Linked DNA regions of Homo sapiens: region 1 is linked to region 2. A link means that fine-mapping ties the variant in region 2 to the expression of a gene that starts in the linked region. Tissue or cell type: gastroesophageal junction. Region 2 holds a variant in brackets; the other region holds the start of a gene. All regions are shown on one strand. Distances are between the middles of the regions.

Region 1 (7,210 bases), 80 kb before region 2:
CAAAAGCAAAGCAGGACAGTGGATTCGTCCAAAGACCGGCAGTGTCTTCAGGTGAAGCTGCAGCGTCGAGTCCTGGTGCTTGCAAGGTTTCAGCAGCAGAAACCTGATGGGGCTCCTTGCACCTGGGAGAAAAGCCACTCCAGTGAGGATTATTGCCAGTGAAGGCTGCCCTGGCCCCAGACAAGTTTTCCTAGAATTTATGGTAGCAGGCGGGTTGTTAAAGGATGATTCCCGAAAGGGCCAGACATGGTGCTCACAGGGATGCAGGGTGAGCATGCGTCGAAGAGCTTCCCTAGCCCAGGCAGCTGTGAGGACCAGCTCAGAAGAGAAGTCCTGAAACAGACACTTACAGATGAGGAATATTGACATGATTGTGCAAATGGACCTGAAACTGGATTTTCAGGGGGCTGTGATGGGCTGGATTGTCTCCCTTAGATTCTAATGTTCAAGTCCCCCACACCCCAGTGTCTTAGAATGCAACTGTATTTGGAGGTAGACTTTAAAGAGATGGTTGAATTAAAATGAGGCCCCAAATTCAATCTGACTGGTATGTCTATAAAAAGAGAAAGTCTGGACATCTGGAGATACATCAGGGATGCGTGACTGCTCAGAGGAAAGACCCTGTGAGGCACAGCAAGAAGGCACCATCTGCTTGCCCAGGAGACACCAACCTGTGACACCCTGACCTTAGACTTCCACCCCCAAGAACTGTGAGAGGTAGACCTCCTTGCACTGTAAATCACTCGTTCTGTTACTGCAGTCCCAGAAAACTAACACAGACCTTTGCTGGGCAGAATGCCTTTGCTTCTCTGCAGACAAGATTACTTTTGCACTATTGCACTGTTGTTATCAAAATAATTATATGGGGCTGGGCATGGCGGCTCACACCTGTAATCCCAACACTTAGGGAGGCTGAGGTGGGTGGAGTACCTGAGGTCAGGAGTTCAAGACCAGCCTGGCCAACATGGTGAAACCCCGTCTCTACTAAAAATACAAAAAAAAAAAAAGAAAAAAAAATTAGCCTGGTGTGGTGTGCACCTGCAATCCCAGCTATTCGGGGAGGGGGCTGAGACAAGACAATTGCTTGAACCTGGGAGGCACAGGTTGCAGTGAGCCAAGATCTTGCTACTGCCCTCCAGGCAACAGAATAATAATAATTTTTATTATGGAATCAGTGTCAAATGCTGGTGCCTTCTGGGGGCAACACACAGTTTCCCACCAAAGTGCATCAGTGCCCCAGGCAGTCAAGGTGCCAGGAGACGAGGAGGCCGCGGATCTTCTGTCCACCTGGGAGCAAGCCTGCAGCTTGGGACCCTCCTGGGACCCTGCACCCGCCAGTGCCCTGCCCTCCTGGGCTCTCATGGGAGTGAAGGAGGGTGGGCTCTGTAGGAGTTAAAGAAAGAGGAAAGAAACATGAAAAGCGGCTCAACAAAGGCAGGTTTATTTTGGAGAATAAACCTGAAAGGGACTTCTGGCCGATTTTGGTCAGGAGCCATCTCTCCTACAGACTAAGGATCTTTAAGGGTTTAGGAAGTGGGGAGCTTATCGCAGGCTCGGAATGTTTCTATGTGAGGGAAAGTTTATTGCGGGCTTGGAATGTCTCTGGTCGGAGGGGAGGTTATCTCGAGGTTGGCATGTTTCTGATTGGAGATGTTATTTGTGGTTTACGGTCGTGCTGACATTAGCTATTGGGCTGATGTGTTTTGGGCTGGATTTAGGCAGCTTTTTAATCAAAGGGAACCTAAAATGGCGGTGTTTGTCCAAGAAGGCCATACTCCTGCTCTGTCCCGCTCCAGCCCTTGGGGGCCCCTCGGGCTCTTCTCTTGGATGGTGTGTGAATGGGCACATGTGGAGGGGCTGGTCCAGCTCTGCCTGCCTCTGGCCATCCAAAGGAGGGACAGCAGGGCCTGGGCAGCAATGCCGGCCTTGGAGCCCCGGGGCTGTGGAGGCTGCTTGACAGGACACGGAGCCCCCTCTGTGCTCAGGTCGTGGAGGGCCTCGGGCACTACGGTCTGCCAGGCACCACATGTCACAGCTACTCAAACACCCAGGGCCGCCACGGAGGGCCAATGGCCGCAGGATGGCTCAGGACCCGCCCCACCCCTGTCGCTGCCTTTCTGGCTGCCCCCTAGTCCCTGGACAGGCGCTCCCCAGCCCCAAGCAGGCCCCAGCCAATCTCCTGCCCAGGCAGGAGCTCCCCCTGCCGCCCTCACAGACCTCACCTCTTCCTACACGTTTCCAAGGCCGCGCCCCGCCCCGCACCCCGCCAGGCCCCGCCCCGCACCCCGCCAGGCCCCGCCCCGCACCCCGCCAGGCCCCGCCCCGCACCCCGCCAGGCCCCGCCCCCACCCCGCCAGGCCCCGCCTCTCTCTCCGACCCTGGACAGTCCCCGGGACCCACCCCGCCCCCAGGTCCTGCCCCCGCCCGCCTCCGCGGGGCCTCCCACCCTCCCGGGCAGACTCCACTCCCGCCCCCTCCCCGTGGGTGCCCCCGCCGGCCCCGCCCTCCCAGGCTGCCCCCGGCGCCCCGGGCCTCCTCCGCGCAGTCCCTGAGTCCCGCAGGCCCTGCGTCCCCGCTGCACACCCCCGTCCACTCCCGTGGTCCCCGGTCCGGCATGGCGCGCGCGGTGGGGCCCGAGCGGAGGCTGCTGGCCGTCTACACCGGCGGCACCATTGGCATGCGGAGTGAGCTCGGCGGTGAGTCCGAGACCCTGGGCGGGGTAGGCCTCTGGACCTGGCCGCGACCGGGAGCCTCGGACCCTCCTGCACCCACGGGGGTCGTTGGGGAGTCAAATCCGCGCCTGGATGGGGGGTGCGGGCTGAGGTCGCTCTCCTCCGGTTCCGGCCACCGGCGTCCCCACGCATGGAGCCCCGACCTGGACAGAGGAGATTGCGGTGGGTTCTCGCCGTCGCGGTGCTCCCGGGAGCGCCCTGCGACCCTGGGGCCAGGCCCCCTGTGCTGCCGCTGCGCCCCTGAGGGCCAGCGTCCTGAAGTCCTGGAATATGGGGCGGGAGGGCCCCAGGGCATTGGCCTGCCGCTCCTGCTCTGGACACAGAAGGCTTAGGAGGCTGCCCTGGAGAAGGCTTAGGAGGCTGCGAGGACCCCTCAACTGCGACACCCAGGAGGGTGTCCCCGTCCCCTGGGGTCCTGGTCAGGCAGCAGTGGTTGGCACGATACTGGGGCTACCTGGCATCTGCGGGGACGCACGTGTTCACACCCGAGGTGGCCTCAGAGCCCTGCTTCCTCTGCCCCTGTGTGGACCTGGTTGACCAGAGACCAGCGATTGCGTCTGGACTGAGTTCTGCCTGGGTGGGGTCAGGGCCTGGGACAGGCACCGAGCTCTGTGGTACTCCAGCACAGTGCTGCCAGCCTGGGCTGGGCACAGGAAGGATGGTAGCTTGGGGAGCCTGAGGCCACCGGGATGGGGAGAGGACGGTTGCACTGGAGCCTCCAGAATGCCTGGGTGTTCCCCAGGAGGGCAGGACACTGCCTGGGGCCCCCAGATGGGCTCTGCTGTGATGTGGGGCCTCCCTTGGGGCCAGGACAGCCCCCTCGCCCCGTCTTGAACCTGTTTGCGACCCTCCATGGGCCACTGCCTGCCTTTCCCTCAGGAGCCCTTTCCACTCCTCCTCCTCCCACTCCCTGCTGCCCTGGCCCCTCCCCACACTCCTGCTTGTGTCCAGCGCAGCTCTCTCTCCTGGGACGGCTGGGACCCTCTCCGGCTCTGCCAGAGCCCAGGGCCTCCCCTGGCATGACCAGAACATTCTCTTGTCCCTTGCCCATCTGCCAACCACTTCCCCGCCCCTCCTATCCCCACCCCCTCTCACGGCCTGTTCCCTGGCAGCTGCCCCTCCTGGCCACCCCTTTCTGCTGAAGTGGCTGCTCAGAAGCCACCAGCACTCTGTCGGTGCTCTCAGATTCCACCCACCACACTGTGGCCGGTGCAGACCCCTCTGGAGGCCCACTCTGCGCCCAGCCCAGGAGACAAAGCCTAGTGGGGCTCGTCCACGAGGGACTCAGGTCCCCAAGAACGTGGCTGTCCAGGCTGCCGGGAGCCTCCTCTGCACTTCTCCTTCTGCCTGTGAATGGAACAAAGTCATTCACAGCTTGGCAAACGCCCCTGTGTGACACTCCACTGACACAGAGTGACACAATTCCTGTGCTTGGCCCTCACAAGCTAGAGAGAGAGGCTGCCATTGAAGGGATGGCATGCATTAAGGAGCTAGTCCCAGGGGCAGGATCTGCCAGGGCCCTGTAGGGGCTGTGGGCTGATAACAGGGTCTGAGCTGGGTGTGTGGATGGTGTGGAGTTTGGAGGCAGCCCAGGGAGGGCTTCTCTGAGGACACAAGGCCTGCAGGACAAAGATGGGAGAGGGCCAGGCCAGGAGCAGCCCTGCAAGGTGCAGGAAAGAGGAGTGGGGAGCCCAGCAGGGCCGGAGCCTGCCAGAGCTGCCCCCGAGTGGGGACAGGACCTGGGGACTCTGTGTGGGGCCTCGTCCGACGCCCCTGACGCTACCCCTTCAGGCTTGGAGTGTGGCCAACTGCAGTTTCGTTGAGCTCAACATGTAGTTCTTGAGTGGTCCGAGCTGCAGGGGCAGGTGGACTCTGTAACCCCACCACACACCCGTCTCGCTTGGCCCCCGCGTGCTCGCCGCAGCAGCCTGTGGGTGCACTCACACGCGTGCACCGCATTTCTGAAAGAGGCTGTGAGGTCCTGTGTCTGGGTGGGAAACAAGAGACTTGGAGGCTGGAAATTGGGTGTGGGGCGTCAGTCTTCAGACCTGAAGCAGCCTTCTGAGATCCCTTGGTGCTCTGTGCACTGGGGTCCTGGCTTCTGCTCAGCAGCCCGTCCTCGTGTGGCTGCGAGGTCACCCCCAGCTGTTGCTAGCTGACCCATGTGGGGCATCCACTTCCAGGAACCTGCAGGAATGGGCTCCCCCAACCCCTCGTGAGGTTGGAGCAGCCAGACTGTCAGGCGTCAATGATTTACTCCCTCCACACTGCTGACGTGGGCTCTGGCCTTCCCTGGGGAGGTGAGAGGGGAGTGGTGGCTTTGCCCTAGTAAAGCTGTTTGATTGTCGCTGTTGGAACGGCTTCTGCGCCTGCTGGTAAACAGTGACCTGTGGGTGGAACGCTGCACACCTGGAGCCCTGCCAGAGTTCAGGGAGGGCAGAGGTGATGCCAGTGGGGACGCCCCTTGACCCATCCCTTCTCTGAGTTCATTGAAGCTATCACAGGTCAAGGGGCATAGCGAATCCAAACACGGCTGATAACCCCAAGCCCAAGCTGGCATCAGTGGCCACGTTCTGTACACCCGAGAAACTTGAAGACTTCCTATGTCAAACTGGGAACCCCACCTGCTTGCCGGCCTGTCCCAAAGTCCCTCCTGAGCCCGGCTCCTTGCAGGCACAGCAGGGAGGGCAGAGATCTGGGGCCAGGCAGCTGAGAGAAGCTCCCTGCCCGGTGACCACACGGGTCCCAGCAGTCGAGAGTGTCAGTGGAGTGATGCCCATGGCTTCTTGGTTACTGCAGTGGCGTCTGTGCCCTTGGCCTGGACCTCCTTCCTGAATGGGTGCTACACGTTCACAAGTTTCTAAGCCTAAGCTTGACTTCGCTGGTGACAGTGGGGCCCATTGTCTTAGAGAGCAAAGCCTCCTTTCCAGGTGTTTGGCAGGGGGCTGAGGAGTTTCCAAGTCACCAGCAAACTCAGGCACCTGCCTGGATGGGCCAAGGAAGAGGTTCCAGGCAGGGCTGGAGGGTTCAGATTCTGCAGCCCTTGAAGCTTTTGGAGGGCCCTCATTGAGAAAAGTAATACAAGTTACAAAATCATAGTTAGGTGTGAAAGCCGGTGTTTGTTTATTTTTTATTTATTTTTATTTTTTTGAGATGGAGTCTCACTCTGTCGCCCAGACTGGAGTGCAGTGGCGCGATCTCAGCTCACTGCAAGCTCTGCCTCCCGGGTTCACACCATTCTCCTGCCTCAGCCTCCCGAGTAGCTGGGACTACAGGCGCCCGCCACCGTGCCCGGCTGAAAGCTGGTGTTTATTTAAAATAACAAAAGAAATTGCCCCAGCTGACTGGGCGCGGTGGCTCACACCTGTAATCCCAGCACTTTGGGAGGCTGAGGTGGGTGGATCACTTGAGATCGGGAGTTCAAGACCAGCCATGGACAACATGGTGAAACCCTGTCTCTACTAAAAATACAAAAAAAAAATTAGCCAGATGTGGTGGCAGATGCCTGTGGTCCCAGCTACTGGGGAGGCTGAGGCATGAGAATCGCTTGAACCCAGGAGGTGGAGGTTGCAGTGAGCCGAGATCTCGCCACTGCACTCCAGCCTGAGTGACAGAGTGAGACCCTGTCTCAAACAAACAAAAAAAACTGATGCCACTACATACCTGTTAGAATGGCTGCTGACGTACAACACATTGACTGCGGGGTGAGTGCTGGAGCCCCAGAGTTGGAAAGTGGTCCACTCGCAGGTTGGTAAGAAAACTTTACTGGCGACAGTATAGGTTTGAAAAAGGAACGTTTGGCCAGACATGGTGGCTCAGGCCTGTAATTCCAACACTTTGGGAGGCCAAGGCGGGTGGTTCACTTGCCTTGCTAACATGGCGAAACCCCGTCTCTACTAAAAATAAAAAATTAGCTAGGTGTGGTGGTGCATGCCTGTAATCCCGGCTACTCGGGAGGCTAAGGCAGGAGAATTGCTTGAGCCGGGTGGGTGGAGGTTGCAGTGAGTCGAGATGGCATCACTGTACTCCAGCCTGGGCAACAGAGTGAGACTCTGCCTCAAAAAAAAAAAAAAAAAAAAAAAAAAAGGAAGAAAGGAGAAGAAAAAGAAAAAAGAAAGAAATTGGCCAGGCTGGTTTTGAACTCCTGGGCTCAAATGATCTTCCTGCATCAGCCTCCCAAAATTCTGGGATTACAGGTGTGAGCCATAAAAACCACTGCAAAAGCACATATGGAGTGTTTTGCTTGAGAGAAGAGGACACCAAGAGAGTTTAGTCTTGTCTTTGGCTGATTTCGCCTGTGGTGCCCACACATGCCCCCAGCAGGGACAGCAGGGCCCATATCCACGCCTACCACTCTGCAGCATTCCTGGAAGTTTCTGGAAGCTGTTCCCCCACATGAGTCAGCAGCAGCTGGAGGTGACCTTGCACAACGTGAGCATGTCCCACAAAACCAAACCAGATATGCCCCCTCCACCTTT
Region 2 (8,423 bases):
CTGGGTGTGCCCGCTGTGGCCCAGGCATACCTGAGATCTGTGCTGCGGACGCTGCTCCTGGGAGGGTCACTGGAGGGGCAGAGCCCTTGTGTGGCCGACGGGGCAAAGGGCCAGCCTGGTTTTGGCCTCTGCAGACCTAAGGCTCCAGCCTCAATCTCCCTCTGGCCTCTCCAAGTGCTGCTCCAGTCTCCAGTGCTTGCCCGGCCTCCGCGTCCCCTGGAAGCTTGGGGGTGTGGGTGCCGATGCCCTATTGCCCACAGCCTTGGGTTGCAGCTGGTACCTTGACCCTGCCCAGCCTTGGGAGGGGCTGCAGGGGAGGGTGGAGGAGCTGGCTCTGGGTGGGCGTGACCTCTCCCCATCCACTTGAGGCCGAGCCAACACCCTCCAGTGAGGGCTGGTGCTGGGCGTCCCCCACATCCATTTCCAGAGGAGGAAAGGGGTCCAGGGAGGCTCCCTGTCCCTTATAGGGGCCACCGTGGGGACCGTCCTCAGCCCTGCCTGTCCAGGTAGGGTGGGGGGCTTCCCACCTGCACCTGCAGGGCCCTGCCCTTCCCCCCGCCCCGCCCCAAGAAACCTGGGGTCCCAGCCTTGGAGCAGCACCAGGCAGCAGGGTGGGGTAGCCCTGTCCCAGTCCTGCCTGCTAGATGCGGATGTTTTCCAAAGCGGGGCCGCAGCTTCTTCCCTTGCAGGCAGCTGGCGGGAAGCTGAGGTGTAACCCAAGGTCGTGGGGTGGGGGGTCTGGAACAGGAGGCTGAGGCTGGGGTGGTGGGCAGGCAGGAAGAACCCCAAGAGCAGACACTGGTGAAATCCAAGCCTCCTCCCACCTGTGCCCCCAAATGGGCAGATGCAGCCCTGCCTGCCTGCCTCTGGCCTCGCCCAGGCCCCTGCCCAGTCTCCCTGCCCGCTATGGGGGCTCACTTTGAGGTTTGGGTTGTGGCTCTGCCCTCTGCGCTTCCCAGCGTTCCCCTCTGCCCGGGCTTCTTGCCCTGTGGACAGACGCACAGACACACAGACAGCGTGGGCGAGTGTGTCGGCCTCCATCCTGTCCCTGATCTGCTGTGTGAGTGATCTTTGGGCGACGAGGGCACAAGGGCCTCTTCCTTGCAGGGCAGTTGTGAGGTTTACAGAGACGAGGCTTAGGCACGGTATTGGGTAAATGCTGGCGATGCTGGGTGAGGTCCAGGGGTCTCAGGCACACAGGCCCGGGCCCCACGATGCAGGTGCCATTGCCTCCCCTTGCAGGCCTCCCTGCCGCGTTGGGCCCCACCCTGTGTGGCTCAGCTACCAGAGGGTCACGAACCTGGGACCCCAGTGACCCCGGAACCCCGAGCATGCGCGGCACGGGGCGGCCATGGGCCCCGACCCCTGCTCTGACTCACACCTGCATCCTGGGGCCCAGGCCCGTGTGCCTGAGACCCCTGGACCTCACCCGGCATCGCCAGCATTTACCCAATACCGTGCCAGCTGTGGGCAAGGAACCCAAGTCCCCGAGGCGGCGGGTGGGCTTCCCACACCTGGAACTACCGGGGCTTCTCCTGGGTAGCCGTGGGTTTGGTTCCTGGGATTCTTCCTCCTGGCATCCCCCGGCTCCACGTCTTGCCTGGGTGGCTGCAGGCACCGCCCACCACTGCCCTACTAAGGACTCCACCATGTGTCATAGATTACTTTTACTTTCCACGATGACACCTCACTAGGAGGAAAGCCGTCCCTGGGGTCTCTTAAGAGACAGCTCCTATTCAAAATGAAAGAAATTAAGCAAAACGCCAGCGCTGCAGCCGCCGCAGTGGGGGCAGCGAGAGGCCGGGCCCGGCTCTGGGGTGCAGGTCCTTCCACACTGGGGTCAGTTTTAGGGAGTCAAGATAGACGTGAGAGGCCGAGGGCTGTGGGGGGGGCGTGGGGCATGTTAGGGGACAGAGGAGCCCAGGGTGGGTCGGGGGAGCGCCGGTGGTCAGCGTTCACCACACCCTTCGCCGGGTGGCATCCTGGCCTCTGGCCCGCGTGGGAGCGCCTCCTGTTGGGAGGTGGTGACACCCAGTGTGTGTGTTCGTTCACCCCTGTGGCGTCCTGGTGTCCCTGTGCTGGTGGGTCCATGATCCGGGGTAGGGGCTCTGGGTGCCTGCAGCACAAAATGTGCTGGGAGGGTGTGGGGCCCTGCAGAGGTGGGGTGGGTGGGCCACAGAGAAGCCACCCCAGGGAATGAGTAGGTGTGGCCCAGTGATGGGACCTGGGAACACATCCCCAGCAGCAGGGTTAGCACAGCCAGGGCTCAGAGGCGCGGCGGGCCTGTACTCTGTGTGTGTGCCTGTCTGCGTGTGTATGTGTGTGCTCTGTGTGTGTATGTGTGTGAGTGTGTGTGCGTGTCTGTGTGTGTGCGCGTGTCTGTGTGTGTGCGCGTGTCTGTGTGTGCATCTCTGTGTGTGTGTCTGCATTTCTCTTTCTCTGTGTATCCTTGTCTCTGTGTGAGTGTCTGAGTATGTGTGTGTGTCTCTGAGTGTCTGTGTGCCTGTGTCTCTCTGTATATGTGTCTCTGTGTCTTTATGTGTCTGTCTCTGTGTGTGTCTCTATGTCTCTCCGTGTTTCTGTATGCATATGTGTCTCTATGTGTGCGTCTCTGTGTGTGTTTCTGTATGCGTGCACGTGTCTCTGGGTGTGCCTCTGTGTGTGTCTGTATGTGTATGTGTGTCTGTGTGTCTCTGTGTTTCTGTATGCATGTGTGTGTTTCTATGTGTGTGTGTCTCTGTGTGTGTGTCTCTGCATGTATATGTCTCTGTGTGTTTCTGTATGCATGTGTGTATCTCTATGCATGTGTCTGTGTTTCTGTATGCATGTGTGTGTCTGTGTCTCTGCATGTGTTTCTGTGTGCATGTGTGTCTCTGTCTCCATATGCATGTGTGTGTCTGTATCTCTATGCATGTGTGTGTCTCTGTATGCATGTGTGTCTGTGTGTCTCTATGCATGTGTGCGTCTGTGTGTCTGTATCATGTGTGCGTCTGTGTGTCCCTGTGTGCATGTGTCTCTGTGTCTGTATGCATATGTGTTCTGTGTGTCTCTGTATGCGTGTGTGTCTGTCTCTGTGTGTGTTTCTGTATGCGTGTGTGTGTGGGCCTCTGTGTATGTTTCCATGTGCATGTGTGTCTGTGTGTCTCTGTATGCATGTGTGTATCTTTGTGTCTATGCGTGTGTGTGTGTCTGTGTGTTTCTGTATGCATGTGTGTGTCTGTGTGTCTATGCATGTGTGTGTCTCTGTCTCTGTATGCATGTGTGTGTCTGTGTTTCTGTATGCATGTGTGTGTATCTGTGTTTCTGTATGCATATGTGTGACTGTGTGTCTCTGTCTCTGTGCATATGTGTGTCTGTGTGTTTCTGTATGCATATGTGTGTCTGTGTTTCTGTATGCATGTGTGTGACTGTGTCTCTGTGTCTCTGTGTGCATATGTGTGTCTGTGTGTTTCTGTGTGCATGTGTGTGTTTCTGTGTGTGTCTGTGTGTGTCTCTGTAGGGTGTGCGTGTCGAGGTCCCCTGGGAGTCCACCCCAGTGGCTCCCAAGCATGCACTGGCCTCCCCTGGAGGGTGTGTTAAACCCAAGCGTCAGCCTCTCCCCTGGAGGTCCTGTGGTCCGGGGGCTTTGGGAGACTCTGCACCTTCTGGGAGTTCCCTGGGGGCACTGTGGGTGCAGGAATCCCCCACCCCTGGCGGTGCTGGGGCAAGGCTGAGCCTCAGGGTGGGCTTTGGGGTGGGGAGGCGCTCGCCCTGGCTGAGGGGCAGGGTGGCAGCGGGGGCACTTCCCAGCAGCCCTGAGTGACGAGGGTGGCAGGGGCCCAGGAGCTGGGCAGTGGCTCCAGGATGGCTCTAGGGCCTTGGTGATCGGCAAGGGGCAAGGCAGCCTCACCTGGGGCCTGGGGCTTGGGGTGTGGTAATCTCGACAGCAGGATTAATTGAGCCCTTCCTGTATGTGGTCACTGTGCTGGGTGCCTTGAGTGTGTCAGTCCATTAGGGCCACACAGAGGCCTCCATTGTCACCTCATCCGACTTTGGAGATGTAGAAACTGAGGCATAGGCAGGCCAGGTGGATGTGCCCAGGTCACAGCTGTGCATGGCTGCCCACAGCCTGGGCATCGGGTGGGAGCAGCTTTCACTGTCCG[A/G]CCCCCGGCAGCGGCTGCAGGTGGGGGATGAGGGCACACCCCTTGGTGGGGGGATGGCATTCAGTGCAGAGCACAGGGAGGGGCGCTCAGCCTGTGTGGGTCTGGACCCTGTCACAAGCTTGGTGTGAATGCTGGGCAGAGTCCCTGGGGCAGGGACGCCATGGAGGCCCCAGCCTGAACCGTCCACTGTAGAAATGAAGTGCAGGCCTCCCAGCCACATTTTGGACTGGGTTTCCTGGGATGGTGGCTGATGAAGTCCCAGGGTGGGATCGCCTGGTGACTCGCAGGCGGGTGACAGGAACAGCTGCTGTCACCCACCACTGATCCTGCCTCTGCCTCTCCTCCCCAGGGCTATGCAGAAGCTCAGCCTGGCCTCCAAGAGGAAGAAGCCCCACCCGCCACCGCCTCCAGCCACCCGCGGCACCTCCACCTACCCCACCGACTTCAGCGGGGTCCTGCAGCTGTGGCCGCCCCCGGCGCCCCCCTGCCTGCTCAGGGCCGCCTCCAAGACCAAGGACAACCCTGGCAGCATCGGGAAGGTAGACGCAGCCCCGAGTTCGGGGCCCTGGGTGGGGAGGCCAGAGGCGTCTGAGAAGACGCAGGAGGGGTGAGGGAGTGGAGGGGCTGCCACTTCCTTCTCTGGGTTGGATAAGGGTGGTCAGTGGGGTGCCATGGGGAGACTGAGGCCCAGGTGGCAGCAGGGAGCCTGGGAGCCTGTGCTGGGCTGGGACTGCCGGGATGGGAGGGGAGTGGCGTGTCCTAGGGGTCCCAGGGGCATGTACTAGGTTCAGCGTGGGGCGGGACAGCCAGGTCACGGGGCTCCCAGGGACTAAGGTTGGGTTTGATCCAGGGAAGCCCCTTGCGTAGGCTCCACTGAGACGCAGCCCTGAGGGGGCTGGGGGCAGGAGGGGACTCTCTGCTCTCCAGAGTCACCGTGTGCAGGCGGGCCCCTGCCATGGGAAAGCGGGATGCGTGATGGGTTGATTCTGGCGCCGCGCTCCACATGGGAAGACTGCCGCCTGTGGAGGGCACAGGGCCTCCATCAGTGATGGGACAGGCTGGCTCCTGGCTGTCCCTGGAGCTCTGAGCCTGGGGCCTGTGGCTTGCTGGTTGTGCCATCCGAGTCTCGGAGAAATACCTGCCCTGGCTGGACGTGGCCCTGCCTTGTGCTGGGAGCTGGCAGTGCCTGGTTCGTGGGCCCATTGAGTCAGGTGGGCTCTTTGTGCCCATGGAGGGTGGGAAGCCAGTCACACAGCTCTGTGTGTGCCCCCGGTGGCTTTTTCCTGCCCCTCGGCCTGCTCTGCAGCCAGCCCCCTCCCGCCCAGCACCCCGAAAGCACTGCCTGGTGCCTCCAGGCCCGGGAGGCTCTGTGCCCCACATGGGCCATCAGGCTCCGTGCCCCTCTGGACTTGGACCACGATTCCCAGGGGTTCAGCTCTCCAGGGGACAAGGTCTGGAGGGGACGCTGTGCCCACGTTGGAGACCCCCTGGCAGAAGGCCCCTGTCCCTGGGCCTGGGGGTGCCACAGGCCTCTCCCACTGCCCTAGCTGTACTGGGTCTAGGGTGCCAGGAGCACCCCTCGCAGTCCTGGTGAGAGCCTGCTTGACCTTTACAGCTCTGTAGTCCTGGAGGGGCCTCCTGGGCAGCCACACCTTGGGATTTTGTTAGAGCTCGGGAGGTGCCAGGCTCGTGGGAGGGTTTGGAACATGCTGGCTACGGGGAAGGGCTGTAAGTGACTGTGTGTCTGGCCACGCCCTCAGTGGTGCAGTTGCTGGGGGCTGTGCCCCCTGCCCGCCCGGTGATGTAGCGAGCATTGTACTTGCAGCCCCTGGAACGCTAATTTCGTGACTTGAGCCCTCCAACCTCTCCAGGGCAGCCCTGGCCTGAATTGACGGTGGCTACTGGTCTGGGGCAGTGGTGGGTCCCTAGGGAGGGCCGCCGTGGGGCATAGGGGCTCTGGGGCGGCCTGTGGGGCAGACCTGACAGCTCTTACCATCTTCATAGGCCATGGCGGGTCCGGGTGGGGGCATCAGGCAGTTGGCACCTTGGAGCTGCATGGGTGTCCAGAGGGGAGTGTGTGGTGAGACCACCAGGAGCCTCCCGATCTCCCTGACTCTGGGTCTCCACCCCGAGCACCCCACCAGTTGCCAGGGTTTGAATGGATCGCTTGTCCCTCTGGGCACTGGTTTCCGTTTGTGGTAAGGAGGGCTTGGCGGGCATCTGGCATCTCTGTCCTCCGGAGGCGACATTCTGCATCCAAGGCCCGGGGGCAGGGGAAGCTGTGTGGCCTGGATCAGGGACTTGTCATTGCTCCGCTGGGGTTGGGGCAAGGCCCCTGCCTGGGGTGAGGCGGGGGTGGTGGGTGAAGCAGAGTTGGGGGACTAGGCCGGGGGTCACTGCCTCCCTGGAAATCTCTTTGCCTAGCACTGCTGGGGGTCTGCGGGGAACAAGGGGGCTCCTGATCTCTGTGCGTGTGCCCGGCACGGGCTGTTTCTCCACAGTCCCCTGGGATGCGAGGCCAGTGGCATCAGCCTGTGTTTTGGGCCCAGGCCTGGCTGGCTGGGGCACCCTGGGTCCTCCCCACCCTCAACAGTCTCCTTGAGACAGGGCAGGTGGGTGCTGGGGCCAGGCTGCCGCTGCCCTGGCCACGTGGGCTGCAGAGCTGTGCCGAGAGCTCAGGAGGACGCCGAGGTCAGGTGTGGGCGGTGGTGGGCAGGCAGCATCCAGGTTCCCCGCCCAGCCTGGGATCGGGGCCCTGGCTCTGGCCTGGGCCTGGCACTCAGCCTGTTTGTGCCATCCAGTTGGGGCGGGGGGCAGAGGAGTCAGCAGCTCCTTCAGGAGCCCGCAACACTTTTCCCAGCGCCCCGCGTTTCTTAGGGGACAGCTTCTGCCCCACTTCCTCCTGGGGGCAGCCTTGGCCGGGCTTCTCCCTTCTCTCCATGGCAGTCACACCCCCACCCTGCTCCGGAGTGCTCAGTGCTTCCCCAGCAACAAGGAGCCCTGGGTCACCAGCCTTCCAGCCCCTCCACCCTGCACACCCCCCAGCTCCCCGGGTGTTATTAGCACTAATGTCACATAGTCAGAAATGCCGCCTGAAAGGCGTTTAATATTGTCACAGAAAAGAAGTTAGATTACGTTCAATTTCTGACATTAATGTGCTACTTAAGATAATTCATCACAGTGTGGTATAAAAAAGACATCCCTGTCTGGGTGGGTGCTGAGCAGCGCCCTTCCCCCTCCCTGCCTGGGCTACCTCTTCAGAGCTGGAAGCCCTTTTTTAATGCAAAATGTGTTTTTTCTCTCCCAGGCAGCTATTCCGTGGGGCTTTGTAATATCTGAACATTTAGGGGAGAGGCTTGCTGTGCCTTTTCCTGCAAAGACCCTGTCATTTCCCTGCAGTAATGACAGGGTTCTCTTTCGGCAGACAATGGCCTGCGCTGGGACCAGGGCAGTGTGGGGCAGGCTAGATGGGCGGTGCCCCCACTGTGGGCTGCTCCATCCCCTCCCTGGGGAGGCCCACACCCCCCTTCCTCCTGGTTGTGAGCCCGCTCTGCGATTAATGCCGCTGGTGGAAAGGGTGGCCGGCAGACGTAGAGAGCCAAACCGTGAGCCTCTCCACGCCACTCCTTCCCGCTAGGAAGTCTCTCAAATCTGCAGAGCCCATTTGGCTCCTGAAGTGGTGAGGAGTTCACACTGGAAAAAAAATTGCCAAAAATTACCGGGAAGTGCACGTTTTCGTCTGCTTTGTGGTGGCGTCTGGAAATGAAATAGTTTTGATCACGTCGTCGGGGGAATAAAAGAATCGATTCTTGCCTAATGGAGCCCAGGTTCTGAGTAGTACAATAGAAAAGTGTTTCTTCATGCTGCTCCCCGGAGAGCGGGCACTCCCGACTCCAGCGGCTTGCATATCAATGTGCCCCATGCCCAGGGGGAGTAGGTGCCGCCTGGTGCGAACTACCCATGGTAAACCAATTTTGCCGGCGTTATGTATCTGTCACTTACAATTAAATCCGTGAAAAATATTGGCTCTGAAATGAGTCTCGGGTAATTTGATTTACGCTGTAGTGGAGAAATCAGAGATTTCAGCGCAGAGTGGACTGTGGTGTCCTCCAGCAGGAAATGGGGCCTGTCTCTGGCTCTGCGTTGGAGCCCTGGTTCAGGGTGGCCCTCGTGTGCGCAGCCTCTGCCGGGTCAGAGCCGCCGCCTCCTGGCATCGACGCACCAGACCCACCTGTGTGGGGTGTCCCTGCTGTGGATGGGTTTCGGAGTGTTTGCAGTGAT

The links. PIP is the estimated chance that this variant, and not a neighbour inherited with it, causes the effect.
Region 1: ASPG starts here. The variant in region 2 is fine-mapped to the expression of ASPG in gastroesophageal junction (GTEx, PIP above 0.99).

Annotation. Positions count from the first base shown.
Region 1 is chr14:104,083,157-104,090,366 of GRCh38, forward strand. It overlaps ASPG (asparaginase), which reads left to right and starts at 2,544. Exons shown (of 16, transcript NM_001080464.3): 1 at 2,544-2,696. The coding sequence starts at 2,615. LOC124903408 reads left to right here. Exons shown (of 2, transcript XM_047432050.1): 2 at 1-539.
Region 2 is chr14:104,162,368-104,170,790 of GRCh38, forward strand. It overlaps KIF26A (kinesin family member 26A), which reads left to right. Exons shown (of 15, transcript NM_015656.2): 5 at 4,492-4,681. Among named protein-coding and RNA genes, the nearest start is that of KIF26A-DT, 28 kb to the left of the region's middle. RefSeq lists an enhancer at 6,483-7,195. The variant A/G (reference allele first, on the strand shown) is at 4,143.